5 linked regions of the Homo sapiens genome follow. The protein of the gene in region 1 purifies or fractionates together with the protein of each later gene. This does not show direct contact. Each region holds a gene or a part of one and is shown in the gene's direction. Other genes may lie near its edges. The genes, in order: LRRC8A, TMEM169, TPST2, ADGRG5 and TRDN.

Region 1 (6,266 bases):
GTGTCTTTGTCTACCCCCGCCCTCCTCCTTCCTGGGTAACTCCTGCTGATCCTTTGGCTCTCTCTGGTGGCTGGGCCACTCTCCCAGCTCCTGGCTCCCCGAAACCCGTGTCGTAGTGATCACAGCTTTCCCTACCCTGCCACTCCCATGCACAGTTCTGCACAGTGTCTGGCGCATATGGAGTAGATGCTCACCAGAGGCTGGTTGACTGTCGGAGATGATGGGTGGATTTGGTGTTTAAGTTGGAGTCTGGGCACTGGCTGGTCTCTGCCTGACCCAGCCACCCCACTGTGGCTCATCTCTTGCCACTTCCCCTCTCTGGCTCTGGATCTCGCCATGCCGAGCCCGCAAGCCTTCTCCAGATGCCATGTACTCTCTCCTCCAGGTAAACATGTGCTGTTCCTCCTGCCTGGAATGCTCTTTTTCCAGCTCCTACTCTTAGGAGTCAACTCAGACAACTCCTCCTCCAGAAAGCCTTCCCTGACCCCACTAGTCTGGGTCTAGTGCTTCTCCTGGCTCCCCCGCAGCAGAGCTCTGAGCTCTCAGACCGTCGCTACTGACTTGGCACCTCCTCAGTAGACCAGGTTCTGGAGGGAGGTGCTCTGTCAGAACCTCTTTTGTCTGCCAGGCGCGGTGGCTCATGCCTGTAATCCCAATACTTTGGGAGGCCGAGGCGGGCAGATCCCTGGAGGTTAGGAGTTTGAGAGCAGCCTGGCTAACATGGGGAAACGCTGTCTCTACTAAAAATACAAAAAATTAGCCAGGCTTGGTGGTGCGCACCTGAAATCCCATCTACTCGAGAGGCTGAGGCAGGAGAATCACTTGAATGCGGGAGGCGGAGGTTGCAGTGAACCGAGATTGCACCACTATACAAAAAAAACCTCTTTTGTCACCCCAGAGCCCAGCCAAGGGCCTGCTACCAAGCAGGCTCTCAGGAAGTGCTGGCGGTGTGGCAGGTAACTGCGACAGTCACACATGTGCCTGCTGACGGCAGCTCTCGCTTCCTTGTAGGGAGGCAGCGTCCATGGAGCAAAAGGAATGCCAGGATCCTGCACAGGCAGACGCGGGCCAGCCTCAGCACCGACAGCCGACGCGCAGATAGCAGAGCCATCCTTGGGGTAAGGACTGGGCCCCTCTCCTTCTCAGCCAGCTCCAGCTCCAGTCAAGTGCCCTTCCCAGCCTGGGGAGCAAAGGGTAGCATCTCCATCCCCACAGTCCTTTGCTTTTCTTGCTGTAGGTCCAGGGTAGAGTGGCAGACAGCAGAATTACTCTCTTCCTCCTTCTCCCGCTGAGTAATGTGTGCTTGCCGCACTCATTGAATGCTGAGTTGTTTCATTGCAAACCTCTGTTTTTTCTCCTTCACCCCAGATCTTATCAGTCTGGGTCTTGCTAATGCAGCCTCATGACCACATTTCCCAAAAAGCGTGGACCACGTTTCCCAAGTGTGTTCCATGAGACACCAGTTTCTTCGGTCACAGTGGTTTGATAATTCCAGGAAACAAAGACTTCTTGTTATCCTTGCTGCAGGACTTATCAGAGTCTTGAATCAGAGCCGTCATCAGGATTGAGCTGATCACGATAAGGGAGCTAGCGACTCGTGTTTCCCCACACTTATTTGATCGTGTAGACATCTTTGGGGACTGGGATTCCTTGGCCTGTGCTTTGGAAAACAGTTCCCAGAGGCAGGAGAGTCCCTTTAGAACATTTGGAGGATTAAATATGTTGACATAGAGCAGGCAGTTGGCAGAGTGCATGTCCTAGAAGGTGGTCCCGAGTCATAGCTGGTGTGTGTATAGACGGCTGTGTAATTTGCCAGACATACTCAGGTCGGTGATCTCATTTGACCATTTGAGGATGCTTAGGCAGTGGCCATTATCTCCAGTTTACAGATGTGGAAACTGAGAATCAGAGTGAGGAAGCAGCTTGCCCAGACTCATCTGTAAAGAAGGCAAGGACATGCGGCTTGAATCCAGACCCTGGAATCCTGGGCCAGGGTCTTCTGTTGTCTGCCCTGAGGCCTTCCTGCCTTTATCTCTCACCTCAGTTTTTTGTGTGAAGGAAGGCCTGAGTCTCCCAGCCTGGATTTTAAAAGAAATAGTAATTTTTTTTTTTTGTAATTACCAACATAGTTGTATATTCATTATATGGTTTTATACTGTTTGGCTATTTTTGGGGGACAGGGTCTCACTCTGTTGCCCAGGCTGGAGTGCAGTGGCACCATCATGACTCACTGCAGCCTCGATCTCCAAGGCTCCAGCGATCCTCCTGCCTCAGCCTCCCAACTAGCTGGGACTGCAGGTGTGCACTACTGTGCCCAGCTAATTTTATTTATTTATTTATTATGGAGATAGAGCCTCTCTACATTGCCCAGGCTGGTCTCGAACTCCTGGGTTCAAGAGATGCTCCTGCCTTGGCCTCCTAAAGTGCTGGGATTATGGGTGTGAGCCACCATGCCAGACCTGTTTGGATCTTTAATGTCATCTAGGAAATGAGTCTCTGCTGATTCTCATCTTCAGAGGTGTGAATGGGAAGGGGTATATTCTTCCACATCTATTGTTACCATTTGCTTATTTTTATAAAAATCTGGTCATGTTTGAGTTGCTGATTCACAGTTTGCTTTTGTTTCATATAATGATATCCCCCGGACCTCTTTTTTTTTTGAGATGGAGTCTTTGTCACCCAGGCTGGAGTGCAGTGGCACAATCTCAGCTCACTGCAAGCTCTGCCTCCCGGGTTCACTCCATTCTCCTGCCTCAGCCTCCCGAGTAGCTGGGACTACAGGCGCCCGCCACCACGCCCGGCTAATTTTTTTTGTATTTTTAGTAGAGACGGGGTTTCACCATGTTAGCCAGGATGGTCTTGATCTCCTGACCTTGTGATCCGCCGCCTTGGCCTCCCAAAGTGCTGGGATTATAGGCATGAGCCACCGCGCCCGGCTCCCCTGGACCTCTTTCCCATGCAAGAGGTAGATAGAGCTGTGTGTGGTCCTGGCAGAATGCACACCCTTGAGCCCCCCTGGCCCCTCCCCCTCACATGCTGGGAGTTTTGAGCTGTTTGGGCATTTACAGCAGCAGAGGGAGGTCGGAAGTGCCTGGTGTGTGATTGTGTCGACTCTCCTGTTTATGGGATAAGGTCAGCCAACTCCTGGCTCTGCCCCATAGGAGTTTCCTGTTGGTTTTGAGGAACTCTGTCCCCTGGAGAGAGGGGAGGCCTGAGCTGTAGTCTTTCATGCTGGGCAGCGCTGAGCAGGAAGCAGCAGGTCCTGCTTGTCAGATCATAATTCCTCCTTTTTGCCAAGGATGGCGTGGAATGAACCGCATGGGCCGGCCTGAGGGGTTTTGGCCTCCACCCACCACCTGGGTTCAGGGGACACACATGAATCAAGCTGAGACAAATTGAGTCTGAGCCATTGTTCTCCTGAGCCCAGCCCTTCCTGGGGATAGGAAGGAACAGGCAGACCCTGACTCAGTTTACCCTTGCTGTATCTGGAGGAAGTGTTGGTTGTGGTCCTTTTGGCATGCTCCTTTCAAGTTTTAGTTCTGAGAGTGGGCAGGTGAGGAGCAGGAGGAGGGCCCACCCTGCCACCTGGGTCCAAAGATGCTCTCTTTTGGGGTATAGCTGACCTCAGGAAGGGTTTGGGCAAGGAGAGCATACAGGCGTGGCAGCCTCGTTTTGCGGGGCTGCGAGAGCGTCTGGCAGGATCGCGCTGGGAGTGAGGTCTGTGCCAGAGCTCCTGACATCTCACCTGTGTTTTTCAGGCTCACTGTCCTGTCGCTTTCCCTCCCCCACGTCACTTCCTCCATTCTTCCCCAGGAGTCTCTTTTCTCTCCCATACACTGCTTGGGAGAGAGCTGCAGAGCTGGCCCCTCCACAGATGGTGCTCAGCGTCTCTGGCTTCTCCTTCCTGCAGTAGCACCTTCATAGTCCGTGGTCATTCTCAGCACCATGTCTCAGTGCTGAGCCACAGGCTGGGATGCTGCACGCATTTGCCCATCTTACCTTCGCCACAGCCTTGCGTGTGAGGTTGCTTTACCATTTTACAGACCAAGCCCCAGAGGGATGAGGTCTCTGGCCCAAAGTTATACAGTGTACATGTGGCAAAGCTAGGACTTGAACCCAGGTTGGTATGGCTTGGCAGCTGGGGCTCTTTCTACTTCACCCTCCATTACCCTCTTTTCTCAGGTTCCCAGGCTTTTGGGGGCCTTCAAAGTCACCTGGAAGCTTGTCTAAAATGCTGTTCCCCTGGGCCCACCACCACAGACCTGCAGAGTCTGCCCTGGAAGGTTGGCCCCAGGAATCTGAACTTTGAAGATGCTTCCCCAGCAGTTGTGAGGCTGGTGGGCTACAAACAATGCTGAGAAACACTGACCGGACGCCATTCTTTCAGCCTTAGTCCCAGTCGTCTACCGCAGAACTCATGCCCTTGGTGTGGAAGCAGGGCTGAGCTCCCCACAGGACTGGGACTGGACAGGTTTTTTTTTTTTTGTTTAATTAATTAATTAATTATTTTGAGATGGAGTGTTGCTCTGTCACCCAGGCTGGAGTGCAGTGGCACAATCTTGCTCACTGCAACCTCCACCTCCCAGGTTCAAGCTATTCTCCTGCCTCAGCCTCCCGAGTAGCTGGGACTACAGGTGCCCGCCACCATGCCCAGCTAATTTTTGTATTTTTAGTAGAGACGGGGTGTCACCATATTGGCCATGGCTGGTCTCGATCTCCTGACCTTGTGATCCACCCACCTTGTTCTCCAAAGTTCCAGGACTACAGCCGTGAGCCACTGCGCCTGGCCAATTTTTTTAATTTAATTTTACTTTTTTGAGATGGAATCCTGCTCTGTTGCCCAGACTGGAGTGCAATGGTGCCATCTTGGCTCATTGCAGCCTCTGCCTCCTGGGTTCAAGTGATTCTCCTGTCTCAGCCTCCCAAGTAGCTGGGATTACAGATGTGCACCACCACGCCTGGCTAATTTTTGTATTTTTAGTAGAGACGGGGTTTCACCTTGTTGGTCAGGCTGGTCTCGAACTCCTGACCTCAGGTGATCCACCCACCTCGGCCTCCCAAAGTGCTGGGATTACAGGTGTGAGCCACCGCACCTGGCCAGACAGTTGTTTTTTAGTGGCTTCATTTTGTGTGTGTGTGTGTGTGTGTGTGTGTGTGTGTGTGTGTGCTGGGAAGGCGAGGGGCTTAACCTTCCCTCCTCAAGGACGTGTGGGGCTGAGGTTTCTAGAAGGGCTTTTACTCCCAGCCACAAATGTTCCCTGCTGTCTTCCAGATGCGTTTCTGTTGCGTCTTGCGTCTTGCAGCAAGTTTGTCTACATCTAAACGTCTCTTGAGGGCTTAAAACCTCAAAATTAAATTGCTTGCTGCAATCTAAGCCTCACGCCTAGAGCAATGTTCCAGTGGAGTAAAAGTGGCTGTAAAATTCCATAGCTTTCACGTGCCACCTGGACGCCGTCAGAGTGCCACTGCCAAACCTGCGCCCTCTGACGGGCAGCATGACAAACGCACTGACCAGCAGCGGGGGCGGTGGGCGGGAATCCTGGCCCTGAAGGGACACCTCGCATCTCCCAGCTGACTCCATGAGTCAGGATCCCTGGGGGTAGCCCCCTTCCATCCCAGAGAGTCGGGTACCAGGCAGCTCACCCTCTGTCAGACCCCCCAGTCCTCCCCCTGGCTCACCTAGGGCTTGGCCAGTGCCCACTCCCCTGGGATCTCAGCAGAAGATGTGTCTGCTGCCTCTCTAGGGTACTGGTGGCCACATTTCATAACCTGTCTAAGAAGGCAGCGCTGGTATTCATAACAGGTTAAGACCTGTAAACCGTGTGTGGCCGTGACTCCATGTGCAAATATGAGCCAACAAACGTTGGCTGGACGTGGCGGTTCCCACCAGTAATCCCAGCACTTTGGGAGGCTGAGGTGGAGGATTGCTTGAGCCCAGGAGTTCCAGACCAGCCTGGGCAACATAGTGACCTGTCTCTACAAAAATAAAAAAAAAATTAGTCCAGGCACAGTGGCTCAGCACTTTGGGAGGCTGAGGCAGGTGGATCACCTGAGGTCAGGAGTTCAAGACCAGCCTGGCCAACATGGTGAAACCCCGTTTCTACTAAAAAATACAAAAATCAGCCGGGTATGGTGACATGCACCTGTAATCCCAGCTACTTGGGAGGCTGAGGCAGGAGAATCACTTGAACCCGGGAGGCGAAGGTTGCAGTGAGCCGAGATTGTGCCACTGCACTTTAGCCTGGTGACAGAGTGAGATCCCGTCT
Region 2 (6,266 bases), on another chromosome or scaffold:
AATGCTATTAAATTACAAATAGAAGGAGGCAAAAGAAAGGGAATAGAAACTAATATTTATGAAGTGTCAGTCACATATTAGGCATTTTATACTGGGCCATTCATTGAATTCTCACCACACACCTGCAACACAGGGTTAGGGTGGGAGGAGAGGACGTGGGGGCTGGGGTAGTCACAGAAGGGGACGTGAGCGAATGAGTCTGTCTTGAGCCAGGCTTGAAAGATGTGGAGAAGCGTGACAAAGATGAAGAAACCAACATAAGCACATGTGTTGAGTAGTCACGTTGCAGGAAAGGGAAGGGGAAAATTGCTACTGAATCCTAGGGTGGGGTGCAAATACGGAGAGCCTCAAACACCAGACAGGCCTTCAGATATATTTTAGTCAGTAATGGCAAGACAAAATAAAAATATTGTTTTGTTTTGTTTATTAATCACCATTAATATGGTAAAAAATGGTAGAGGAATGTCTTCCATTTTAGAATGTCTTCCAGTTTAGAGGAAGTAGTATGAAGGCTGTATTCTGGCATATGGTGGTAGTAGAAATTCAAATGAACAAATTAACAAAAAGATTTCATAGGAATGACTAGCAGGACTTAGAGACTAATTATTATTAGGTATATGGAAATATGTCCTTAATATAGGAAATGGGTTCATCAAAGAACATTCTAGAAGTTTATAGATCTTTGCATAAATGTTGGCGGGTAGTATGGCACAATGAAAATAACATGGGCTTTGAAATTAGCAAACCTGGGTGTCAGTTCCAGTCCCACCACTATACTAGCTATGTAAGCTTGAGCAAATTTCTCCTCTAAATGGGAATAATAAAGGTACCTACTTCACTGGTTTGCTGTGAATATTGAACAATACGATTATTGTAAAGTACTTAGAGCAGCACTTGGCACACAATAAACATCCAATAAGTTTCTGTTGTTACTATTATTCAGTCCAAGTGTCCTCTTCTGCAAAATAATACTTGCTTCATAAAATTGTTGTACCTAGGCTGGTATGGTGGCTCACACCTGTAATCCCAGCACTTTGGGAGGCCGAGGCAGATGGATCACTTGAGGTCAGGAGTTGGAGACTAGCCTGGCCAACATGGTGAAACCCTGTCTGTACTAAAAGTACAAAAATTAATTGCACATGGTGGTGTATGCCTGTGGTCCCAGCTACTCAGGAGGCAGAGGCACGAAAATCGCTTGAACCTGGAGGCTGAGGTTGCAGTGAGCTGACATTGCACAACTGCACTCCAGCCTGGGTGACCAAGCGAGACTCTGTCTCAAAAAAAAAAAAAACAAACAGGCCGGGTGCAGTGGCTCACGCCTGTAATCCCAGCACTTTGGGAGACCGAGGCGGGCAGATCACAAGGTCAGGAGATCGAGACCATCCTGGCTAACACGGTGAAACCCCGTCTCTACTAAAAAAGAAATACAAAAAATTAGCCGGGCGTGGTGGTGGGCGCCTGTAGTCCCAGCTACTCAAGAGGCTGAGGCAGGAGAATGGCGTGAACCCGGGAGGCGGAGCTTGCAGTGGGCTGAGATCACGCCACTACACTCCAGCTTGGGCGACAGAGCGAGACTCCGTCTCAAAACAAACAAACAAACAGACAAAAATTGTTGTACCTAGAACAACTATGCAATATATAGCACATAGTGTTGCTTAATAAATATTTACTGAAGCTGGGCACAGTTGCACATGACTGTAGTCCCAGCTACTCAGGAGGCTGAGGTGAGAGGATTGCTTGAGCCTAGGAGTTCAAGTCAAGCCTGGGCAACATAGAAAGACCCCATCTCTAAAAATAAATGAATACGTAAATATTTTTTGAATGTGTAATTCAGTGAGATAATGCATGTACTGTATAATCAACACAGAACCTACCAAATTACACAATCGGTAAATTCCATAAATGTTGTGGTGTTTCCTTCTTTATCCCTTTCTCCTTTCCTTTCCCCCTTCTCCTTTTTTCTCGGTAACACTGAGAGGTTCTCTGCTGTAAATAAAGATGAGTTTGGTTTGAACATGCTTTGCTAAATAATTCAATTAGAAAATATTCGCCAGGCTATTGGAGATACAATCTTGAGATCTACATTTGGGCGTTCTTGGCATAGAAGTGGTCCTACAGCTGTGTGCAGGAAGGCTGTATATTTTAACAAGAGGAACAGAGTGTGCTGTTGAGAATAGAGGACAATGAATTAAGAATCGGGCCTAGAAAACACTGGCAATTATGGGTTGGAGAAAGCAGATAAGGGAGCAAAAGAAACAGAAGGAAGGTTTGAGAGGTAAAAGAGAATGAGAGTAGAAAGTTAAAGGAGGTGAGGGAAGGTTCAAGAAAGATTTGGGAATTAGTGGAATCAACAGCTTTGGTGTGACAAGGAGAATAAGAATGGTGAAGTGGTCACTGTGATCACATCAGGGACTTTCAAGACTGTTTCTCACCAAAATGAGTGGATCTGTCATCAAATGAAGGAGAAATAGGGTTTTGGACAGCAAACAACAGAACCAAAAAACCAAAAACCATCAGCTGTTCACTGCAGCTACTACCACTTGACTACTTCTATTTTTAATTTTCATTTTATTTTATTTTACTGATTTTATTTTTGAGACAGAGTCTCACTCTCTCGCCCAGACTGGATGCAGTGGCACGATCTCAGCTCACTGCAACCTCCACCTCCCAGGTTCAAGCGATTCTCCTGCCTCAGCCTCCTGAGTAGCTGGGATTACAGGCGTGCACAACCACGCCAAGCTACTTGTATTTTTAGTAGAGACAGGGTTTCACCATGTTGGCCAGGCTGGTCTTGAATTCCTGACCTCAAGTGATCCGCCCATCTTGCCCTTCCAAAATGCTGGGATTACGGGCATGAGCCACCACACCTGGCCTTGACTTCTTCTAAATCTTGGTGGGGAAATCCTGGACTTTAGAGTTATGCAAGTATAGAATTAAACCCAAGTTCTCTCACTGCTATATTTAACGCATTGAACCTAATAGGTCAAGTGTGGAAAATAAGACCTACCTGTCAAGCTTGTTGAGAGATGCAAGTAAGAGAACATCTATAAAGAGTTTACCTTACAGCCTGACACATAAGGCTCAATAAATGCTAATTTCCTGGCCTATTTCTCATCTTTGCAAGTGACTTGCGCGTGTGCGTGCGTGCATGTGTGTGTGTCTGTGTGTGTACAGAGGTTGGGAGTGGGGAGAAAGGGCAGAAGATTGCAGGATGAACTGGATATGAGTGGCTATAAACTATTTGATAGAAAAGCTTGGTTGGAGAAAAATGAGATTATCAGAGAGAGTAAAGTGGCAAGGTAAAGTTATTTTTTTCTAGATAAGGAACTCTGAGTTTGAAGGCAAAGGGGAAAGAGCCAGTAGAAGGAAGTTGGAGCTATTGGAGAAGGAGGAAATCAAAGATGAGGAAGAGATGGGGATCAAGAGTCAAGTTGGGGTGGTCAAAGAAAATACCTGTTTTCAGACCACTCATGCTGGGGAAGGCCAGCCACTGTTGTAAGGACACTCAGATGGCCCATGGAGAGGCCCATGTGGAGAGAAACTGAGTCAGCATTACATGAGTGAACCATCTTGGAAGCAGATCTAGCCTCATTCAAGCCTTCAGATGACTGCAGCCCTGACATCTTTAGAGATCTTGAAACAAAACCAGCTAAGCCACTCTCACACTTCTGACTCAGAGAAACTATTTATAGGAATCCCACAGAAATGTTGAGAAAATTCTATTCACAGAATACTAAAAGGTTCAGAAACCATAAAAACAAAAAAACACTTTTGGACCTCCAAATTCTATAGGCAGGAAGCAGGTAGAGAAGACTACTCACCACCCAGCTAAGGCACTCCCAGTTTATTGACGCACATAATTGTGTGAGATAATAACTTTTTTATTGTTTTAAACCTTTACTTCTTGGGTAATTTGTTACATCACAACAGATAATTCATATTCTTGTACTGTGACATCTGATATATTCCAGACTTGCAGGAAACTAACAGTAAAAAGGATCCCCAAATTTAGGAAAACACTGTTTTTACAGTAGCCTTGATAACAAGTAGCCACCAGAACTAGTTTTAAACATGTTCAATCAACAACTGCCTAAGTGAATACATTTTTGAAAGCCATCATCAGAGTGCCAGACCCTGATTGGCCAAAAGTCAACTCACACTAGTGTGAAAGTCAGCCAAACAGGGACAGAGCCACTCACCTGATTGACTTTCAGAAACAAAGGACTGACTGGATGGGTTAATTTCCAAAAACATGTTTGCTGAGTGTTATGGTATGGTTTGTTTTCCCCCCAAATCCATATGTTGAAATTTCAGCCCCCAAAGTGATGGCATTAGGTGAGGCTTTATGTCATGACGGTGGAGTCCTCAGGAATGGGATTAGTGCCCCCATAAAAGAGACCCAGAGGCTAGGCTCAGTGGCTCACACCTGTAATCCCAGCACTTTGGAAGGCCAAGGCGGGCGGATCATGAGTTTGAGAGCAGCCTGGCCAATATGGCGAAACCCCATCTCTACTAAAAATACAAAAATTAGCTGGGCATGGTGGCGTGTGCCTGTAGTCCCAGCTAATTGGGAGGCTGAGGCAGGAGAATTGCTTGAACTTGGGAGGCAGAGGTTGCAGTGAGCCAAGATTGCGCCACTGCACTCCAGCCTATGCGACAGAGTGAGACTCCATCTCAAAAAAAAAAAAAAAAAAAAAAAGAGAGAGACCCAGAGAGCTAGTCAGCTCCTTCAGCCACGTGAAAACACAGTGAGAAGGCACCATCTATGAACCAGAAAGTGAGTCCTACCAAACCCCTAAACTTGATCTTGGATTTTTTGCTCCCAGAACTGTACAAAATAAATTCTTGTTGTTTATAAGCTACCTAGTCTATGGTATTTTCTTATGGCAGCCCAAATGCACTAAGACACTGAGGGAGATTGTTGTTGATCAATTGAACAGGTTTAAAACTGGTTCTATTGTCTACTTACCATGACTACAAAATAACCCATCTTTTCCTAAGTTTGTGGGAATGTTTTGTAGTCTCAAAGGATAGTGTTCTAATTGTAGGGAGATGAGGAAATCATGTTTCAAGGTAAATCAAGGACAGTGTCTCTGTCCTGTGACTACTGTAAGTAGACATTGGCTGGGCACCTTTCTAAAATGAGCTGTGCCTGAAGCAAAAATAGCCCCCCTAAGGTGAATAGCCAGGAGCTCACCCTTTACATTTCATATTTCTTGTCTAAGGTTTTAATGGGATGTTCAAAAGTCATCTCTCTTTTTGCCTCTGATAGGATTGTCCCTCTCCTCCATCAGCCAACAAGATGACCATGTTTATCTTTTATATCCCCAAGAGACTCCAAAGCTTCTCTTAGCTACTATTTTCTGTACTAGTCTGTCCCTGGGCTCAGGAAGCTCTTCCTGTTATCTAACATTGGCCTCTCCCATTGTGCCCAACCAAATCAAGAGTGTCGAACACTACACCTTTTTATGTTTTTTTTTAATTAAATTAATTCTTTTTTTGAGTGATTCGCCCGCCTTGATCTCCCAAAGTGCTGGGATTACAGGCATGAGCCACCGCACTTGGCCACTTTTTAATGTTTATAAGGCCCATTAATAAGGGTCATCATCTCCATGCATGTGTTCACTTTGCCCTGCCACATCTTCCTAGAGCACCACCCCCTCAACAAAGAGAGAGGAAAAGGGAACAAGAAGTATGAGATTTGCAACTTGCCTTCTCACGTGTACTCTTTAACATTTCTGTCTCCCTTCTGAACATCTTGGTACATCTTTAAAGAAGGAGTAAGGAGTACAGAACATAAACCTTCTCCCAGCTCTGAAGCTCTGGTCCTTTAATCTCCTCGGGGTCTCAACCCCTAGTTTGAAAATTCATGCTGTATAGAAGGGCCAAAGAAGGCCCTTCACAAGCTGCCTCAGAAAACAACAGAGAGAAACAGATGATCTAAGTAGGAAAACACGGTGGATTAGGGTGGCCTCCCAAGCTGTGATCATTGCACCTTCAAGTAAGTACAAAGTGGTTTGTTCAGAGGTCATTCCTACCATAGAATTACCATGATGCAGCTTTCTGAGTGTCAGTGTATAAGAGGACTTGGACCAGGGAAAACATTTTTGTATTAAACATAGACACTTAGAGAGTAGAATTACAAATGTATGTATATACACATTTGTATATAAATATACATATGTATAAGTACATATATAGATATACATATATATGTATATCCTGGAACTTAACGTAATAATGAAGTGTGTGTGTGTGTGTGTGTG
Region 3 (6,266 bases), on another chromosome or scaffold:
TGGGGATGTGGTGCGGGACATGGCCCAGATCGCCCCCATGCTGGCTCAGCTCGGCTATGACCCTTATGCAAACCCCCCCAACTATGGCAACCCTGACCCCTTCGTCATCAACAACACACAGCGGGTGAGTGTGCACCTGTACTTGTGGAAGTGTACTCTTGGGGATATGGGGCTTCTGCAGATGTGGAAACTCCAGCCACCTGAGGAAATGTTCAGTCTCTCAATTCCTGGTCATCTGATTTGTTCCTGTCTGATGGACACAGTGAACTACATGATTGCTTGTATTTCCATTTTGCTTGGGCTGCAGGGAAGCTCAAAGCCAACTGGTAGCCTGTCTCTCATACTCTAACATCTAACAGCAGGCCAGCTTGTACACTAATTTCATCTTATTTCTCTAATTTTATTTACATTTTTACCCCTATTTCCCTGGCTATTTGTTTATCTGTTTGTAAGGCACCTCAAGTCTTTGTTGAGAGGGGGTATAAATAAATAAACTATTGGTCCCTTTCTTGTCTTATAAGGTTTAATGTGGATTTCTCAGACAAATGTGAGTTTAGGGCTGTTTAAATTATGCTTAAAATTCTCCTTAGTTAAGATGGTGAAGGGAAATGACTTTTTTGTTTTGTACTGTTTTGTTTGAGGCATGGTCTTGCTCTGTTGCCCAAGCTGGGTGCACTGGTGCAGTCATAGCTACTGCAGCCTGATACTTCTCGGCTTAAGCCATCCTCTCACCCCAGGCTCCTGAGTAGCTAGGACTGCAGGTGCACGCCACCATGCACAGCTAATTTTAATTTTTATAAAGGCGGGGTCTCGCTACGTTGCCCAGGCTGGTCTAGAACTCCTGGCCGTAAGGGATGCCCCTGCTTCACTCTTCCCAAAGTGCTGAGATTACAGGTGTGAGCCTCCAGTGACTGACAAAATGCTTTTGAAGTGTTAAAGTAGGCTAACACCCACTGGGTAAAAGAACAGTTAACAAGTTGATGGCCTTATTTATACGTTTCCATTACAGCTTCTAGTTTACTTTAAGTGCTGTGTTCTAACTTCCTTATAGGCAAATATTTGAAAATGGGACCCAGGCCTGAGGAAGAGCTTTCACAGCCCTTACTTCATTAAGACCCAGAGTCTTTAATTTAAGCTAAGCTCAGCATTTCTGAGCGTGTGCTGATTTTAGGAAATAAACAGTTATCGTATTGAATCACAACGGAAAAAAGTTAATCGTCTCTTAGTTCCGTAACTCTTCAGTTGGCTCAAGAAGAAAGTTTCCATTTGGTGCTAAAAAGTCATTACCACCTCTCTAGCACTCACTGATCTCTCTTTAACAAAGAGAATTTACTAACGCTGAGCTTTGGGGGCTGTGCCCTTGTAATTGAAGTGTAAGCTTTGTCTGTGGGTCTCGTGAGTTCCTCTTCCTCTTGACATTAGTTGATTTTGCAGACATCTATTTATGGAAATACTCAGAGATTCAACGTACATACCAGCCGACATTGACAGGTGAATGGCTGCAACCCAGATGTGGTTTGTTATTTTTATTATAAATATTATTAATTTTTATTTTATTATTCTTTAATAATAGTAATCTTTAAACCCTACTTATGTGTTTTACATACTTTTATCTGCCTGTGGGTTGTACATGTATTATCAAAATAAAAAATTAATTAACTGGATTAAAAAGATGGTAGTGATCTCACAATCCAGCCCCAGGTGCTTCTCAGAAGCAGAGGCGAGGGCCGGCTGGGGACACTGCAGTAGTGGGCTGGATGTTGCTTACTTCACTGTTCTCAGCCAAGGGCCCAGCAGTGGCTCCTCTGGGGTCTCCTTAAAAGGTGGCTCGCTGCCCCTGGCTTGCCCCAGGCTATGGGTCGGACGTTCCTGGAGTAAAGCCTGACTTTATGTATTTTATAAAACACAAATAATTTTCATGAGCACTGGTGGTTAACATCAACTCTTTGGAGCTTTTTGTGTTTGTTTATTTAAAATGGAAGCTGTCTCTCATTTTCATCCAAAGAGATTTCTTCCCTGGGGCGGTCAACAAGTCTTGGCAAGTGCTAGATCCCTGGTTTAGTTTTTGCCATAGCTTGGCTGTTACTGCAAAGAAAAGTCCTCTCACTAAGCCCTGTGAGTTTGCATGCATGCCTGTGTGCTTCTGTGAGTGCTGTGGACCCTGTGTGTTCCAATAATGGATCCTGGGGCTCAGTAAACACAGTGGCTAAAAGGACATCTATGCTGATGAAATCGTCTCTGCCTGCAGTGTCCCATACGGTAGCCACTAGCCATGTGTGGCCCCTGATTCTGTAACAGGAGGCTAGTCCAAAGTGAGAGGTCCTGTTAGGTGTAAAATACACACTAGATTTTGAAGGCTTAGGACAAAAAAGTATGTAACGTTTCTTATTAGTCACTTTTATATAAATTACATATTGAAATGTTAATATTTTACATAGGCTGGACATGATGGCTCATGTCTATAATCCTAGCACTTTTGGAGGCCAAGGCAGGCAGACTGCTTAGCCTAGGAGTTTGAGACCAGCCTGGGTAACATGGTGAAACCTCATCTCTACTAAAAATATTGAATATTAGCCAGGCATGGTGGCACGTGCCTATAGTCCCAGCTACTCAGAAGGCTGAGGTGGGAGAATCACCTGAGGCTGGGAAGTGGAGGCTGCAGTGAGCCGTGATCGCACCACTGCACTCCAGCTTGGGCTATGGGAGTGAGACCATGTCTCAATAGAAAAAAAAAAAAATTAGCTATATCAGGTTAAATAAAAGATATTGTTAGAATTAATCTCCCTTGTTTCATTTTATTTTAAAATGTGACTACTAGCGGAAAGGCCTGAAATGTTGTGGTTCTAACTTCAGGGCCTTTGCTCTGTTGCCTCTGCCTGGAGTGCTTTTTCTTCTGAGCTTAGCCTACCTATTTTTCCTTGTCGTTTGGGTCTCAGCTCAAAGGTTATCTATTTCAAGAGGCCCTTTTTATTTTTATTTATTCACTTTCTTAGAGACAGGGTCTCGCTCTGTCACTCAGGCTAGAGTGGAGTGATGTGATCATACTTCACTGCAGCCTCAACCTCCCGGGCTCAACCAATCCTCCAGCTGAGGCTGGAGTAGCTCCAGAGCAGCTGGGACGATAAGTGCATGCCACCATGCCCAGCTAATTTTTAATTTTTTAGAAATGGGGTTTCAGTGTGTTTCCCAGGCTGATCTCAAACTGCTGGACTCAAGTGATCCTCCTGCCTTGGCCTCCAGAAGTGCTGAGATTACAGGCATGAGTCACTGCGCCTGGCCCAAGAGTCCCCTCTTGACCACCCACTCAAAAGAAGCCCCCTGGTTACTCCTAATCCCACCTCTTTACTGTACTTTTTTCACAACAGTTCCCATGGTTTGCTATGTCCTTGTTTATCTGTGTTTATTTTTCTTGTATGTTATCTGGTGCCCCCTCTAGAATGGTAGCTCCAGGGGAACAGGAATTTCCATTATCTGGTTAACATCATGTCAACCAGACACAATGCTTAGAATAATGCCTAGAAGAAGAGGAGCTTAAGCAATGTTTGTTGGATGGAGGGATGGGTGGGTGGCGAGGTGGATGGGTGGATGACTGGATGTGTTGGGAATGACTAAATTTTATTTTTTGGCCATTTTCATAATAGTGATATTTCTTTTTCTCTTCCTTAGGTCTTGAAAGGGGACTATAAAACACCAGCCAATCTGAAAGGATATTTTCAGGTTAGAAACCCCAAGGGGAATTCCGAATTCTGTCTTTCTCAGCTATACCACCATCTGGCTGTATGCCCTTAGATGTGTCACTTCTCCACTCTGGTTGATGGTTTTCCCATTATAAAAAGGGGGATGTGAGCTGGCTGCCTGTAATCCCAGCACTTTGGGAGGCCAAGGCAGGCAGATCACGAGGTCAGGAGTTCAAGACCAGCCTGACCAAAACGGTGAAACCCCGTCTCTACTAAAAATACAAAAATTATCCGGGCGTAGTGGCACACACCTGTAATCCCAGCTACTTGGGAGGCTGAGGCAGGAGAATCGCTTGACCCTGGGAGGCAGAGGTCGCAGTGAGCTGAGATCACGCCGTTGCACTGTAGCCCGAGCGACAGAGCGAGACTCCATCTCAAAAAATAAAAATAAAAAATAAAGGGCTGTGGGGATGCGTGCTGGACCAGAGGGTCTCTAAGCACTGATCCAGCTGGGGCCACATCTCAGTGGCCCTTCTGCCAGGAAGCAGCCTCTCACTTCGTCTTCCGGCTTGAATGCAGTTGGAGGGACTTCGTGGGGACTTTTTCTTGGGCTTTCTTTCTTGTTGAGACTGGAGTGCAGTGGTGTGATCATGGCTCACTGCAGCCTCAATCTCCTGGGCTCAAGCAATCCTCTCACCTCAGCCCCTCAAGAAGCTGAGACTACAGACACACACCATCATGCCCGGCTAATTTTTGTGTTTTTTGTAGAGACAGGGTTTTGGCATGTTGTCCAAGCTTGAGTTGTATTATTTATAATAAACAGGTAGCAGTTAGTAAAGTGTTTTCCCTAGTGTCTTGTGAGCTGTTCTAGTGAATTATCAAACCAGAGTGGGGGTTGTGGGAACCTCCAGATTTGAAGTTGGCTGGGAAGAAGTGTGGATAGCCTGCGCACCCCATTGCAGCTGGCATCTAAAGTGGGGCAGTCGTGGAACTGGGCCCTTAATCTGTGGCAGCTGATGCTAAGTAAGTCTGGGAGCTGGTGTCAGAACTGAACTGAATTGTTGAACACCCAGTTGGTATCCAGATAATCAGAGAATTGGTCACTGATATTGGAAAGCACCCATAAGCCAATATCTGAAGGATTAAAACTAGGTCTGCCACACAAAGATCTGGATAGAAAAGGCTTCCCGGCAGAGGGAACTGTAAACGCCTGAAAGTGGGGAGTGTGGCCGAAACCTCTGGAGTGCGTATGCACTTTTGCATTCGTTGCAATTATATTTTTCTTTGTTTCTACCCCAATGTGATTTACAGGAATGTTCATTGCAATTTTCATGTTCAAACTGCCTTGTTTTGCTTTCTTAATATTTTCCTATCTTTTGAGTTTCACCGGCACCATTTTGGATGGCTACGTAGTGTTCTGTGGAATGCATGTGCTACCATTTACTAAACAGCTTCTTCAAGACCATTTCCAGTTTTTACAACATCCAGAATGACATTATGTGCACAGTGGAGGACAGTAGGGAGATGAGGGTTGGAAATAGAGGCTTGACAAAACTTATCTGCAGGGCAGCCCTCCTGAGCGTGGGGGTATGCCATTCCTTCATATTTTGTTCCTAAAAGCAACAAAAACCAGTCCCAGGTCAGCTAGACATCTTGCATATGTCATACACGGCAGGAAGTATAAACTGGCCCAACCCTTTTGTTTTTGTTTTTGTTTTTGTTTTTGAGATGGAGTTTTCCTCTTGTTGCCCAGGCTGGAGTGCAATGCGGTGATCTCGGCTCACTGCGGCTTCTGCCTCCCAGGTTCAAGCAATTCTCCTGCCTCAGCCTCTCAAGTAGCTGGGATTACAGGCACCGGCCACCACGCCTGGCTAATTTTTGTATTTTTAGTAGAAAGGGGTTTCGCCATGTTGGCCAGGCTGGTCTCGAACTCCTGACCTCAAGTGATCCACCCACCTCGGCCTCCCAAAATGCTGGGATTACAGGCGTGAGCCACTGCTCCTGACCCCAACCCTTTTGTAAAACACTTTTAGCCTTGTTGTTCAAGAGTCTTCAAAAGATCTGAACCCTTCCACCTGCTCCTGCTGATTCCTTTTTTTTTTTGAGATGGGGTTTCACTGTGTCACCCAGGCTGGAGTGCAGTGGCGCCATCTCAGCCCACTGCAACCTCCACCTCCCGGGTTCAAGCATGATTCCATTTTTTAGAAGTGAATTCTAAGGGAATGATTCAGTAGAGCTTCAGTACCCAACAGAAGAGAGGCAGAATCAGGATGTGATGTCATTTAAAATACTGCAAAAATTGGAACCATTCTTAGGTAAGCAGTCAGTAAACGGTGGTACATGCACTCCACAGAATATCTGTAGCCATCCAAAATGGTGCTAGTGAAACCCAAATGATGAAAAAATAGTAAGAAAGCAAAACAAAGCAGCTCATACTATACAATTGCAACTAATGTAAAAATGCATATTCAGGTGGACAAAAAAAGGCAACACGCAGGAGTTGGGTGCAGTGGCATGCCTGCAGTCCCAGGTTCTCAGGAGGCTGAGGTGGGAGGATCGCTGGAGCCCCTGTCTCTTAAAAACAACAGC
Region 4 (6,266 bases), on another chromosome or scaffold:
TTTCCATGTCAATAAGAGCAGAGCTTCCACTTTTTCATCTGCATATTCTAATGTTGTAGGAATAAGTTACAGTTTATTTAATTAGTCCCGTGTTCATAGATATTTGTGCTGGTTCTAGTTATTTGCTCTTACAAACAATGTAGCTGTGCTTATATTATTTCTCACATGTGCAAGTTCACCATTTATTTATTTTTATTTTTTGAGACAGAGTCTTGCTCTGTCACCCAGGCTGGAGTGCAGTGATGTGATCTCTGCTAACTGCAACCTCTGCCTCCCGGGTTCAAACGATTCTCCTGGCTCAGCCTCCCGAGTAGCTGGGATTACAGGCACGCTCCACTGCGCCTGACTAATTTTTGTATTTTTAGTAGAGACAGAGTTTCACCTTGTTGGCCAGGCTGGTCTTGAACTCCTGACCTCAGGTGAGCCTCCTGCCTCGGCCTCCCAAAGTGCTGGGATTACAGGTGTGAGCCACCGTGTCTGGCTCTATTTATTTATTTTTGATACAGGGTCTCATTCTGTCACACAAGCTGGAGTGCAGTGCCACCATCATAGCTCACTGCAGCCTCAAACTCCTGGGCTCACGTGATCCTCTCACCTCAGCATCCCAAGCAGCTGAAACTACTGGGTGCATGGCACCATGCTCAGCTAATGTTTCTGATTTTTAGTAGAGACAAGATCTTGCTATGTTGCTTAGGCTGGTCTCGAATTCCTGAGCTCAAATGATCCTCCTGCCTCAGCCTACCAAAGCGCTGAGATTACAGGTATGAGCTACCACGCCCCGCCATTTGCCCATTTTTATATTGGGTTAGACTTTTCCTTATCAATTTCTAGAAACTTTTACATAATGGGAAAATCAGCTCTTGTCTATTGTACATATATAAAACTATTACATGCAAATATTTTTCCTAATTTGTCACTTGTCTTTTAACATTACATATGGCCTTCTTTTGGCCAGGTAGAAGTGTCTTTTTAAATAATTTTTATGTAATAAAATGTATCTGTATTTTCTCTTTTGGCTTCTGGATTTTGAGTCATAGCTAGAAAAACCTTCCCCACTCCAGTGTTTTCTTATTTGGTTTCTGTTTTTTGTTTTTGAGACAGGGTTTTGATCTGTCACCCAGGCTGGAGTGCAGTGGCACAATCATAGCTCACTGCAGCCTCAACCTCCCGGGCTCAAGTGATCCTCCCACCTCAGCCTCCCAAGTAGCTGGGACTACAGGTGTGCGCCACCATGCCCAGCTAATATTTTGTAGAGATGGGGGTCTTGCTGTGTTGCCCAGGGTGGTCTCCATCTCCTGGGCTCAAGTGATCCTCCTGCCTTGGCCTCCCAAAGTGCTGGGATTACAGGTGTGAGCCACTGCACCTGGCCTGTCCAGATTTTGCATGTAATAAAATATATGGATTTTTTTTCAAGAATGGGATTAGGTTGTTTTGCAATGTGCTTTCTGTCTTTCATGAGCAATATGCCACTATTATTTCTTCCATATTGATAGTCATTTGGAGCATTTAAAAATCCTATTAAAATATTTGTGTTTTTTTTGTTGTTGTCATGAAGGTAATATGTTTGTTGTAGAAAATTTAAACAATACAGAAAATATAAAAGGAAGTTTTGAAAACACCTCTCCCCTCAAAAAAGCATTATTAACATTTTGGTGGCCACCCTTCTAGAGCTCCCAATATGCTTCAGCATGCATACAAACATAATTTTTCATAAATGAGATTATGTGTGTTATTTTCAACCTGTCCTTTCCACTCAGTGATATGCTGTGCTCTTCTTTTACATGGCTTTGTTTTTTGTTTGTTTTTGGTTTTGTTTTTTTTGAGACGGAGTCTCGCTCTGTGGCCAGGCTGGAGTGCAGTGGCGCGATCTCGGCTCACTGCAACCTCCGCCTACTGGGTTCAAGCGATTCTCCTGCCTCAGCCTCCTGAGTAGCTGGGATTACAGGCGCCTGCCACCAAACCCAGCTAATTTTTTTGTATTTTTAGTAGAGACGCGGTTTCATCATGTTGACCAGGATGGTCTCAATCTCCTGACCTTGTGATCCGCGCCTGCCTCGGCCTCCCAGAGTGCTGGGATTACAGGCGTGAGCCACTGCGCCCAGCCTGTTTTTTGTTTTTTGTTTTTGGAGAAGAGTCTCACTCTGTCATCCTGGCTGGAGTGCAGAGGTGCCATCATAGCTCACTGAAGCATTGAACTCCTGGACTCAAGCAGTCCTCTTGCCTCAGCCTCCTGAGTAGCTAGGATTACACGTGTGCCAACACGCCTGGCTAATTTTTATATTTTTAGTAGAGATGGGGTTTTTCCATGTTGCCCAGGCTGGTCTTGAACTCCTGACCTCAAGTGATTTGCCCACCTAGGCCTCCCAGCGTGCTGGGATTACAGGTATGAGCCACCACGCCTGGCCTCAAAATATTTTTTAGAGAAAGGGTCTCACTATGTTGCCTAGGCTGGTCTTGAACTCCTGGCCTCAAGCGATTCTCCTGCCTTAGTTTAGGATTACAGGTGCAAACCATGGTGCCTGGCTATACACATCTTTTTTTTTTTTTTTTTAAAGAATACACATAATTCTTAATAGTGAAATGACAATCTGTTGCATATTTTAACTTTTAATTTTGAGAAAATTATAAATGCACAGAAGGTTGCAAAAAATAGTACAGAACGTTTTGTATACCCTTCACTTATTCTCCAGTAGTAACATCTTGCATGCCTATAGTATAATATCAAAGCCAGGAAATTGTCTTTGGTATAGTTCACAGACTTCATTCTGTATTATACTCACTCATTTATGTATGCCGGTTCTTTGGTAAGTATATTTTAACTTTATAAGAAACTGCCAAATGGTTTTCCTTGCAATTTTATGACATGATAAAATAAAAGATTCCTGTAAACAACACCACGATCAAGACACAGAACTGTTCCATCGCCACAAGGATCCCTTGTGCGAGACCTTTAAAGAAACACACTCCCCCTCCCTAACCCTTTGCAACCACTAATCTGTTCTCCATCTTTATCATTTTGTCATTTCAAGACTGTTAAATAAATTGAATCACACAGCATGCAACATTTTGAGATTGGCTTTTTTTTTTTTTTTTTTGGCTCATGATAATTCCTTTAAGATCCATCCAAGTTGTGTGTGTCAGTAGCTTTTTTTTAGAAATTCATTTTTTTAACTGCTGAGAATTGTATTTCAGAGTGTAAAGGTATCACCATTTAACCATTTTCACCCACTTTGAGGCTATCATGAATAAAGCTGCTATGACTCTTCATATACAGGTTTTTGTGTGAACACGAGGTTTCATTTCTCTGGGATAAAAGCCCAAGAGTGCAATTATTGGGTCATATGATAGGTACATGTTTAGTTTTATAAGAAACTGTCGAACTGTTTTCCAGAATGGCATTGGAGTGTAATTTATTTATTCCTCTATTGATAGACATTCACATAGCTTTCAACTTTTCTTTATTAACAATACTATTCTAAATATTCTTGTATGTGTATAATCCTGGCTTGCCCTATTCTTTCCATAGGATAAATTCATAAGAATGAGTTTCCTGGCTTAAAGGATATTCAGAACGTAAAGTTCGAATGTGTTGCTAAGCCGTCCCCTTGCAGATGAGGCTCAGATCTTAGACAGAGAGTGCAGGAATGTGCCTGTCCCTACAGACTCACTGGGTGCTATCATATTTCAGATCTTTGCAGATCCAATGGTGGAAAAATGAGAACTCATGTTCTTAACTACTTTCCTCTGCCACTACCATCAAACACATATTTTGAGTTTTGTGGCTCTCCCTCTTGAAGCCTTGCAAGTTTTTGTTGACTTCCTTTCTCTAAGAGGAGGATCATCAGTTCTCTTGCCCTCCCTCCCCTATTTCCTCTTCTTCATCCTCTTAATATGTTTTTTGATTGGATTTCTAAAGTCTTGTCTATAGAGGTATACATACAATAAAATTCACCCTTTTGGAGAGGAGTTTTTGCATTTTGACAGATGTGTACAGTCATGTATACATGTATATTACAATCAAAATATAGAACATTGCTGTCCCCTGAAAAGTTGTCTCAGGCCCTTTTGTAGTTAATATCTTTTCCCTACTCCCTGGCAACTACTGATTTGTTCTCTGATCCAATAGTTTTGACTTTTCTAGATTCCACTTCCATGTTACATTCCCTCCAGAAATGAATGAGGCTTCCAGCTGTTCTATATCCTCATAATACTTTGTATTACCATTTTAATCCTAGTCATTCTAGAAGGTGTGTAGTGATATCTGATTGTGGTTTTTATATGCATTTCTCTAATGACTAATGATATTGAGTGTTTCTCATGTGCTTATTTGCATCTATACATTTTTTTTTTTAACATGTAGTTCCAGCTCTGTCACCCAGGCTGAAATGCAGTGGCATGATCTCAGCTCACTGCAGCCTCCTCCTCCTGGGTTGAAGCAATTCTCCTGCCTTAGACTCTTGAGCAGCTAGGATTACAGGCACATGCTACCACACCTGGCTAATTGTTGTATTTTTAGTAGAGACAGGGGTTTCACCATGTTGGCCAGGCTGGTTTCAAACTCCTGACCTTGGGTGACCCACCCGCCTCGGCCTCCCAAAGTGCTGGGATTACAGGCATGAGCCACCGCGCCCGGCCCATCTATATACATCTTCATTGGTATAGTGATTGTTCAAATCTTTTCCTATATTTATTGGGTTGTTTGTCCTCTTATTAGTTGTGTAAGAGTTCTTTATGTAGTCCAGATACAATTTTTTAAAAACATCAGATATGTGTTTGTAAATATTTTCTCCCAGTCTGTGGCTTATCTTCTCGTTTTGCTAACCATGACTTTCAAAAAGCAGAAGTTTTAATTTTGATGAAATTCAACTTATCAGTTTTTTGTTGTTGTTGTTGCCATGGATCACGTTTTTGGTGTTGTTTCTAAGAAATCTTTGCATAACCTAAGTCAGAAGGATTTTCTTTTTTGTTTTTTCCAAGGAGTTTTACAGGCATATCTTGGAGATATTGTGGGTTTGGTTTTAGACCACCACAGTAAAGCAAATATGGTAATAAAGTGAGTCACACAAATTGTTTGGTTTCCCAGTGCATATAAAAGTGATGCTTACGGCCAGGCACGGTGGCTCATGTCTGTAATCCCAGCACTTTGGGAGGCCGAGGCGGGCGGATCATGAGGTCAGGAGATCGAGACCATCCTGGCCAACATGGTGAAACCCCATCTCTACTAAAAATACAAAAATTAGCCGAGCATGGTGGTGTGTGCCTGTAATCCCATCTACTTGGGAGGCTGAGGCAGGAGAATCACTTGAACCTGTGAGGTGGAGGCGGAGGTTGCAGTGAGCTGAGATCGCACCACTGCATTCCAGCCTGGGCAACAGAGCGAGACTGTCTCACACATGAAAAAAGTTATGTTTACATTATACTGTAGTCTATTTAGTGTACAAAAGCATTATGTCTAAAAATGTACATACCTTAGTTAAAGGACACTTTATTGCTAAAAAGTACTAGCAATCTATCTGAGCCTTCAACAAATCACACGCTTTTTTGCTGGTGGAAAGTCTTGCCTTGATGCTGATCAAGGTGGTGGTGGTTGAAGGTTGGGGTGGCTGGCTGTTTCTTAAGACAGCAGTGAAGTTTGCCACATCAGTTGACTCTTCCTTTCATAAGATGTTTTTCTGTAGCATGTGATGCTGTTTGATAGTATTTTACTCACGGTAGAGCTTCATTCAAAATTGGAGTCCGTCCTCTCAAACCCTGCAGGGGCTTTATCCACTACATTTATTTAATATTCTAAATCTTTTGTTGTCATTTCCACAGTGTTCACCATATCTTCACCAGGAGTAGATTCCATTTCAAAAAACCACTCATTGTTCATCTATGAGAAGCGACTCCCCATCCATTCAAGTTTGATCATGAGACTGCAGCAATTCAGTCACATCTTCAGGATCCACTACTAATTCTAGTTCTCTTGCTATTCTAATCACATCTGTAATTACTTTCCCCACTGAAGTTTTGAACCCCTCAAAGTCGTCCATGAAGCATGGAATCAACCTCTTCCAAACTCCTGTTAATGTTGATATTTTGACTTCTTCCCATGAATCACAATCACATGTTCTTGCAGCATCTAGAAGGGTGAATCTTTTCCAGATTTTCAATTTACTTTGCCCTGATCCATCAGAGAAATCACTATCTATGACAGCTATAGCCTTATGAAATTTGTTTCCTAAATAATAAGACTTGAAGGTCGAAATGACTCCTTGATCCATGGG
Region 5 (6,266 bases), on another chromosome or scaffold:
CTCAGTTTAAATTCAAATGAGCACTTGGGTCAAGCTAAACCAAAATGAATACACTTCTGACTGCTAAAAGCATATCAACAGGCTGCCAAACACAGTAAATTGTTCTTTATTTAATTTTCATCTTATAGCTTATCTACCATTATGGCAAAGATGTCAAAATTAAATGTTAATATTAATGTAGCATTACAGCAAAGGGAGTCTCATTATGCTCTGCTATAAAACCACAATACAAACTCACATTTATATGCTTCTTTGGAAAAAATAGTTATTTTTCAAGTTTATCTCTAGGAAGATTAAAATAAAAACAGTAAAACTAAAAATACATATAAGTGTTTTATACACATATGTCATATTTATAGTCAAATAGCAGAAAGCAATCTTACTAAAAGTACAATCAAAAGAGTAAATTTATTGGACCAAATGGTGGTGTAGAATAGAAGGACACATTCTAAATGTCCTAACAATTATGCAACTAACCTATGTGCTCTCTCATATATATTAATGAATAAAAGGAAATAGCCATCTCAAACCACATAAAAGCTGCCATTGAATGAGTATGAAAAGAACAAAGCACTGTGATTCCATCTATTAGATAACACTTTTTAGGGTCAGTCTTAGTCATCAGAAATCATGTATTCAGCCTTGACTACCAGGAAAGCTTTTATTATTAGAGTATTTTTATAACTTTTCCTGAAATTATATTTGTTTTGGCCCCAGTAAGAGTTCAACATGAACAATAGAGAGTTGAAATTAATATGATATATAACCTATAATGTATAATTTGGATCACTGCCACAATTTTATTGAATTCATAAAAATGAAACAATCTTATATAAATGTATATAAACAAACTTTATACTTAAAAACTGGAATTTGGGAAGCAAAGTAATGTAAAGACTATGATTGTTAAAACTAATAGATTTTTTTAAATAAACAAAAGGGGAAAATAATGATGTCATATTATTCTATGCTAAAATATTTTCTAACTTTGTTTTTCTTTTAATCTTGGTCTAGGAGAAATAGATGAGCCTCCCTTGAGAAAAAAAGGTTAGTTGTTTTCACCTTTGATAATAATTATTTTTCTCTTATGGTAATATTGGTTTTCAGCATGGTTCAAATATATTTTACTTATTTTAATATAAAGGTTTTGTTTAATAATTAGGTCAAGATTTATAGTCAGAAAAAAAATACTCAATTTCTTTTCCAATGAAGGTGATCTCACTACTTTTCTGTTGATTATTTTTTAAATGCCTTATTCAGTAGATTTGTATGGATTCATTTATACACAGACCAATATGAGCTGGAATTTGAGGAATGAGGGGAGAATTCTGTAGCCTTAGAAATGGCCCAGAAAATGACACCCATGATTTATTCTCACCATGGTCAGATTTATTGATTTTAAATGTTTATTCTTATTCTTTTCCTTTTATTTTTTTTGCCATCATTATTTTGCATGTTAGGTGATGACTATGGGCCAGGACAACAAGACGGTGAGGGACATAACAGCCTAGGAGGCAAAGGCATATCCAGTTGGTATGTGTGATGTGTCACTGTCATGGAGTGGAGTTACCTGGATGTGCCTGGATGTGCTGTAGAGGAATTACTTGCAGGAATAGATAAGGTGACTGAGTGAAGTGGTCACAACCTGAATGATAAGAACGATAAACCTAGGACAAAGGAGGACAGCAATGGGGCAGGAATTTCAGAAGACAGAGATTTTGACAGGAAGGGGTAGGAACTGCATCTGGAAGGGGCACTGGGGAGCAGGTAGTACCATCTTGAGGTACATTTGTTGTGAGAAAACAGCCAACATTCAAGCCAGACTTAAAACAATTGCAGTGTTTTAGTTACTGCTACACATGGGCAGGCTGTTGAGGGTTTACCCAGGAAGATAACCCTGGCTTCTGTTGCTCTCTCCTAATACCTACTGTGGATTCAAACAATGGGATCCAAACTTACAGTTTCAGCCTTCCCTGAGAAAATGATGACTACCCCACACTATCTGGGGTAAAATCCACTTAGTGTATGTTAAATTAGAAACTTTGGATTTGTAACTTACACAGCAAAAAAGAGCTAAGCCAGTCAAACTCAACTATGGCAAAGGCATCCAGAAATGAAAGTGTTTATAAAGCTCTGTGAGGAGAAAGGAAGGGTTTATACACCTGCAAATCCAGAATGAGAACTCAAGTACTCAAGACAGACTTCAGCCATCAAATCCAGGTTTAGAGATTCTAGATTTGTCTATAAACTTCAAGAGATTTATAGCTGATTTCCCATAGAGAGTGAACATAGTCAAGCTTTAAGTGAGTTATTAGTCATTATCTGGAAATAACAGCTTATGCACGTTTATTTTCATTGGAAATGGAAGAAGGGAAAACAGATAAATAATGTTTGCTCATTTATACTTATAAACTGAATTCCATAAGACTATTATAAAGCCATGTTTTTCATAAATTGATATTTACTATTTAATAAAAAATCTTTTCTTTTGATTTAAATTTTTCTTTGAAATTATTTTAAAATTAAGCTTCATATAGTAATTAGTATAAACTGCAAATTCATACAAAGCTGTTTTACTATTGTTTCTTAAATTATTTCCTTGATTCAGCAAATCAAATTTTTGCCAGAAAAACTATTAAATAGTTGTTTAGGGTACTTTTAAAAAATGTTAGAAATGTTTATTAGTCAAAAATAGTCTAAGGGATATATGTCCTTCAACACATGTGCACTAATGTCCTTAAAGATTACATACTCAGAATTAGGAGAATTGACTTTAAATCACCTGAATATATTTTCTTAATAGTATTATTCACACAGTTACATGAAAAAAATTGACATTTAAGTAAAAATCTCAGATGCTCTATCTTGGGTACAGAGGCTATGTAATAATAAACCTTAGTTGAAAGTGAATTCAAGAAGATCTATTTCATTGTAATTATTATTTTTTATGTGTAAGCTTTTCTTTCATGGAAGTATAGAGGCAATGAGAGCTTTAAAGCAGTAGGTAATATTTTATAAAACATTTATAATACATATTCTACATTTTAAGTATACTTTTAACATTATTATTGGGGAGAAATTCTATAAATTATTCTTGTCTTATAAGTTATTTTACTCATGTTTACATTTACAAATGTTGGTTTAAGAAGGAATTTGGGGGCAATGTAGAATGATAGTCTTTTAAAACATTTGATTTTTACACATCTAAATGACTCTTCATTAATACCCTTCTCAATTCATATATATTCAATAATATTTAGTCATTTTTTATTGCCTAAATTATCAGGCTGTAGCATTTTTTTATTCAACTGCCCTATATCTACCTAAAACATTTTATTTGAATACACTTAGTTTTATTTGTTGAGTTACTGCTATTCTTAACAAAATAAAAATTCAGCCAGTTTGTTATTTATGGTTGAAGTTTGCAGTTTTTAATTTGGTATGGAATAATGGTGTAGTCGACTAATCTCAGGGTTGCAGTATTGATTATTAAACAGATTATTAATATGGATGAAATATTTGATTCTGCTAGCCTGTGGAATCTGTTGTTATATATAAATATAGCTTCAGGGTATTACATGTAGTACCTAGTGTCTTTATATTCTTCATGCATATTTTTCAACTTGTCAAAATTTTAAAATACTAAGTTCTATTACTAAACACTTCATGATGAGACCCCAAGGCACTGAATCTTTAGAAAATACTATATTTTATTACATAGTTGTCTAAAAATTATAAGTATGAAAACCAAATACTGTTATAAATCACATTTTCGGAAAAAATTATTTGTTGTGTATAGTGGTATACTTTGCACATCTGGAAGTGTGCTTTTAAGCAATATTTTTCACACCAGGGTATACATCATGGATCTGTTAGCACCTCACTTTCTAAGGGGTATAAAACTGCAGAGAGATTTAAAGGAATTGAATGTCATTTGAATGTTTTCCTAAAATTGATCTGCTTGAGAGCATGCCCGGTTTATAACCGTACTATTTCCACTTCAAATATAAATAAATCTGTTGTTGGTTCTTTGTGGTATTCAACGTTACTTGGAAGGAGACAAAAAAATTAAGTAACATTGCCCCAATAAGACTGTGTGTGTGTGTGTGTGTGTGTGTGTGTGTGTGTGTGTGTGTGTGTATGTACAGATGTGCATAAGGCTTCTCAATACTTGTATCTTTAAAAGTAAAATATAGGGTTAGATTTATTGATGAACGCTGTCTCATTCTAACTGTAAAATACATTAATCCACAGATAGGTGATTTTAAAGCTCCATTCATTCGATGGCATTCTAAAAAAAATTCATTTTTCAGGTTTAATAATAACTTATGAAGATTTGCAATATATTAACCTTTAGATTCTTAGATTCTTATAGTCTAAAGGTTAATATATTACAGGATGTGAAATCACAGAATATGGAGGAAATTTAAAATTTTCAATATGTACACTTTTTTCCTTAGAGAATCATAATGTAGCTCTTGGGTAAAATTTTCGTGAGAGAGGTGGAATGAAAATATGAATTCAAAGAGAAAAGAGAAAGATGAAAACCTTCCAAATGTTAAGAAATAATTTTTTGATAAATATTTTAAGTTGATAATGACATCTAAAAATATTATAGTGTTTGGAGTCCATCAACTCAGTTTTTAAAAGGGATATGGCAACTTTATTTTTAAATGTCAACATTTACAATAATCTATAAATTATATCACTTGTAATCCTTCAACTTATGATGAAAAATTTTAGAACTTGTAGGAAGGGATGCAGAGTTTTGCAAAATTTCTAAGAAATATAAAAGGGAAAAAATTGAGCATGATTGTAATAGAAAATAAACATTTTGCTTTCTGGGTAACTCCTAGGTTTCTGAGTGAGAGCAAAGCACAGAGGTCTAAGATTCACGACGGTACAATGTATATCCTTAGCTAATCACTAATACAGAATTCGGACATGTTTTATGCCTTCTGGGATTAAACTCAATCAACAAATGTATTTTTTTCAATTAATCTTTTTCAAGTGTTTTCTATGAGCCAAGCAATGAGCTGGTGGAAGAGAACATGTACTATTTGCTTACCACATTCCCAAAGACTAATGATGAACATTTATTAAATAAAATAGTAAATGACAGTAATGGAGTTTTGATGTGGTATTGCTAGCATCAGGATCAATGCAACATGTTATTTTATAGCTTACGTAATTGCAAAGGTGTAAAAGATCACCTTACTTAGTAAAATGTCCTGCAAATACCACAGTTAAAAATTTAATGAATACATGATCAAATAAGGCAGTAAATAAGCTAGAATAGTTGGGGCATTGTATATTTGATAAAGAAGAGGGTAAATCTTTATATGATGTTATTAATAAATTGAACTGAAAGCATATGAAAATGTGAATAATAGTAATGATATCTATTTTTTAGAAATATAAATTTTAATTCCCTTAATTATTCATAAAGACCCAAAGTTAAAGTTAAAACCAGGGCCAGACGCAGTGACAGACAGACAGACACACACACACACACACACACACACACGCAAACATGCACACACTCAGAGAGAAAGAAAAAGGGAGGGAGAGAAAGAGAGAGAGCGAAAACCCAAAAGTCTTAAAGCAAAGTTAAAAAATATATGTTTTTTTCAGCATAGGTATCTTAGTGTTTTTCTCTATTTATGTTCAAAGATAAAATACTGGTTTATGACTGGTTTATTTTACTAATAAAATACTGGTATTAACACTTTTAAGTGCAACTTAACAGATACACCTATCTCTATCTCCTTTTTACAGTTTATTCTCACTTAAACCTCCATCTATAATATATCTGTATATAAGAATAATAATTACAGCATTTATATCCTTTGGAATATGTAATTTTAGAAGATAATAATAGGCTCCTAACAAGGAATTAGGTTTTGTAATGTCTTTTCCTGACATCTAGCTTTAAAGTTAAGAAAGAATAATCGTAGTCATTCAGAGTTATGCATATTTAGTTTTTTGGACAGGAGAAACTGATCTTTAATTTTAGGACCATGGTGGCCTTATGGGCTATAGGTTTATCTCTTGCCTTAGAGGAAAACACCAGAAGCCAATCTACATTATGTTTAATTTCCTTTCTTGCTAACTACTTTCTCTTTGAAATAAGAAATTGTCCTTAAGGATAAGCTAGACCCAATATAGAGGATGATGTTCTATGAGATTGTACTTGATGCATGTCAATGGCAGAGGAAGAGATTCCTCACTTACAGCAAAACAAATTACAATTCCCCCTATAGTCG

The links.
Region 2: the proteins of LRRC8A (region 1) and TMEM169 purify together in Homo sapiens (co-immunoprecipitation; one large-scale study listed by IntAct). This does not show direct contact.
Region 3: the proteins of LRRC8A (region 1) and TPST2 purify together in Homo sapiens (co-immunoprecipitation; one large-scale study listed by IntAct). This does not show direct contact.
Region 4: the proteins of LRRC8A (region 1) and ADGRG5 purify together in Homo sapiens (co-immunoprecipitation; one large-scale study listed by IntAct). This does not show direct contact.
Region 5: the proteins of LRRC8A (region 1) and TRDN purify together in Homo sapiens (co-immunoprecipitation; one large-scale study listed by IntAct). This does not show direct contact.

What each region holds. Positions count from the first base shown.
Region 1 is NC_000009.12:128,885,004-128,891,269, forward strand, and holds part of LRRC8A (volume-regulated anion channel subunit LRRC8A), read left to right. Parts: exon of another isoform or gene 1-385; intron 386-1,011; 5' UTR 1,012-1,118; intron 1,119-6,266. UniProt on the Homo sapiens protein: Essential component of the volume-regulated anion channel (VRAC, also named VSOAC channel), an anion channel required to maintain a constant cell volume in response to extracellular or intracellular osmotic changes.
Region 2 is NC_000002.12:216,086,881-216,093,146, forward strand, and holds part of TMEM169 (transmembrane protein 169), read left to right. Parts: intron 1-6,266.
Region 3 is NC_000022.11:26,530,146-26,536,411, reverse strand, and holds part of TPST2 (protein-tyrosine sulfotransferase 2), read left to right. Parts: coding exon 1-124; intron 125-3,666; coding exon 3,667-3,717; intron 3,718-6,266. UniProt on the Homo sapiens protein: Catalyzes the O-sulfation of tyrosine residues within acidic motifs of polypeptides, using 3'-phosphoadenylyl sulfate (PAPS) as cosubstrate.
Region 4 is NC_000016.10:57,545,643-57,551,908, forward strand, and holds part of ADGRG5 (adhesion G-protein coupled receptor G5 isoform 1 precursor), read left to right. Parts: intron 1-6,266. UniProt on the Homo sapiens protein: Orphan adhesion G-protein coupled receptor (aGPCR). Ligand binding causes a conformation change that triggers signaling via guanine nucleotide-binding proteins (G proteins) and modulates the activity of downstream effectors, such as adenylate cyclase.
Region 5 is NC_000006.12:123,542,121-123,548,386, reverse strand, and holds part of TRDN (triadin), read left to right. Parts: intron 1-1,014; coding exon 1,015-1,047; intron 1,048-6,266. UniProt on the Homo sapiens protein: Contributes to the regulation of lumenal Ca2+ release via the sarcoplasmic reticulum calcium release channels RYR1 and RYR2, a key step in triggering skeletal and heart muscle contraction.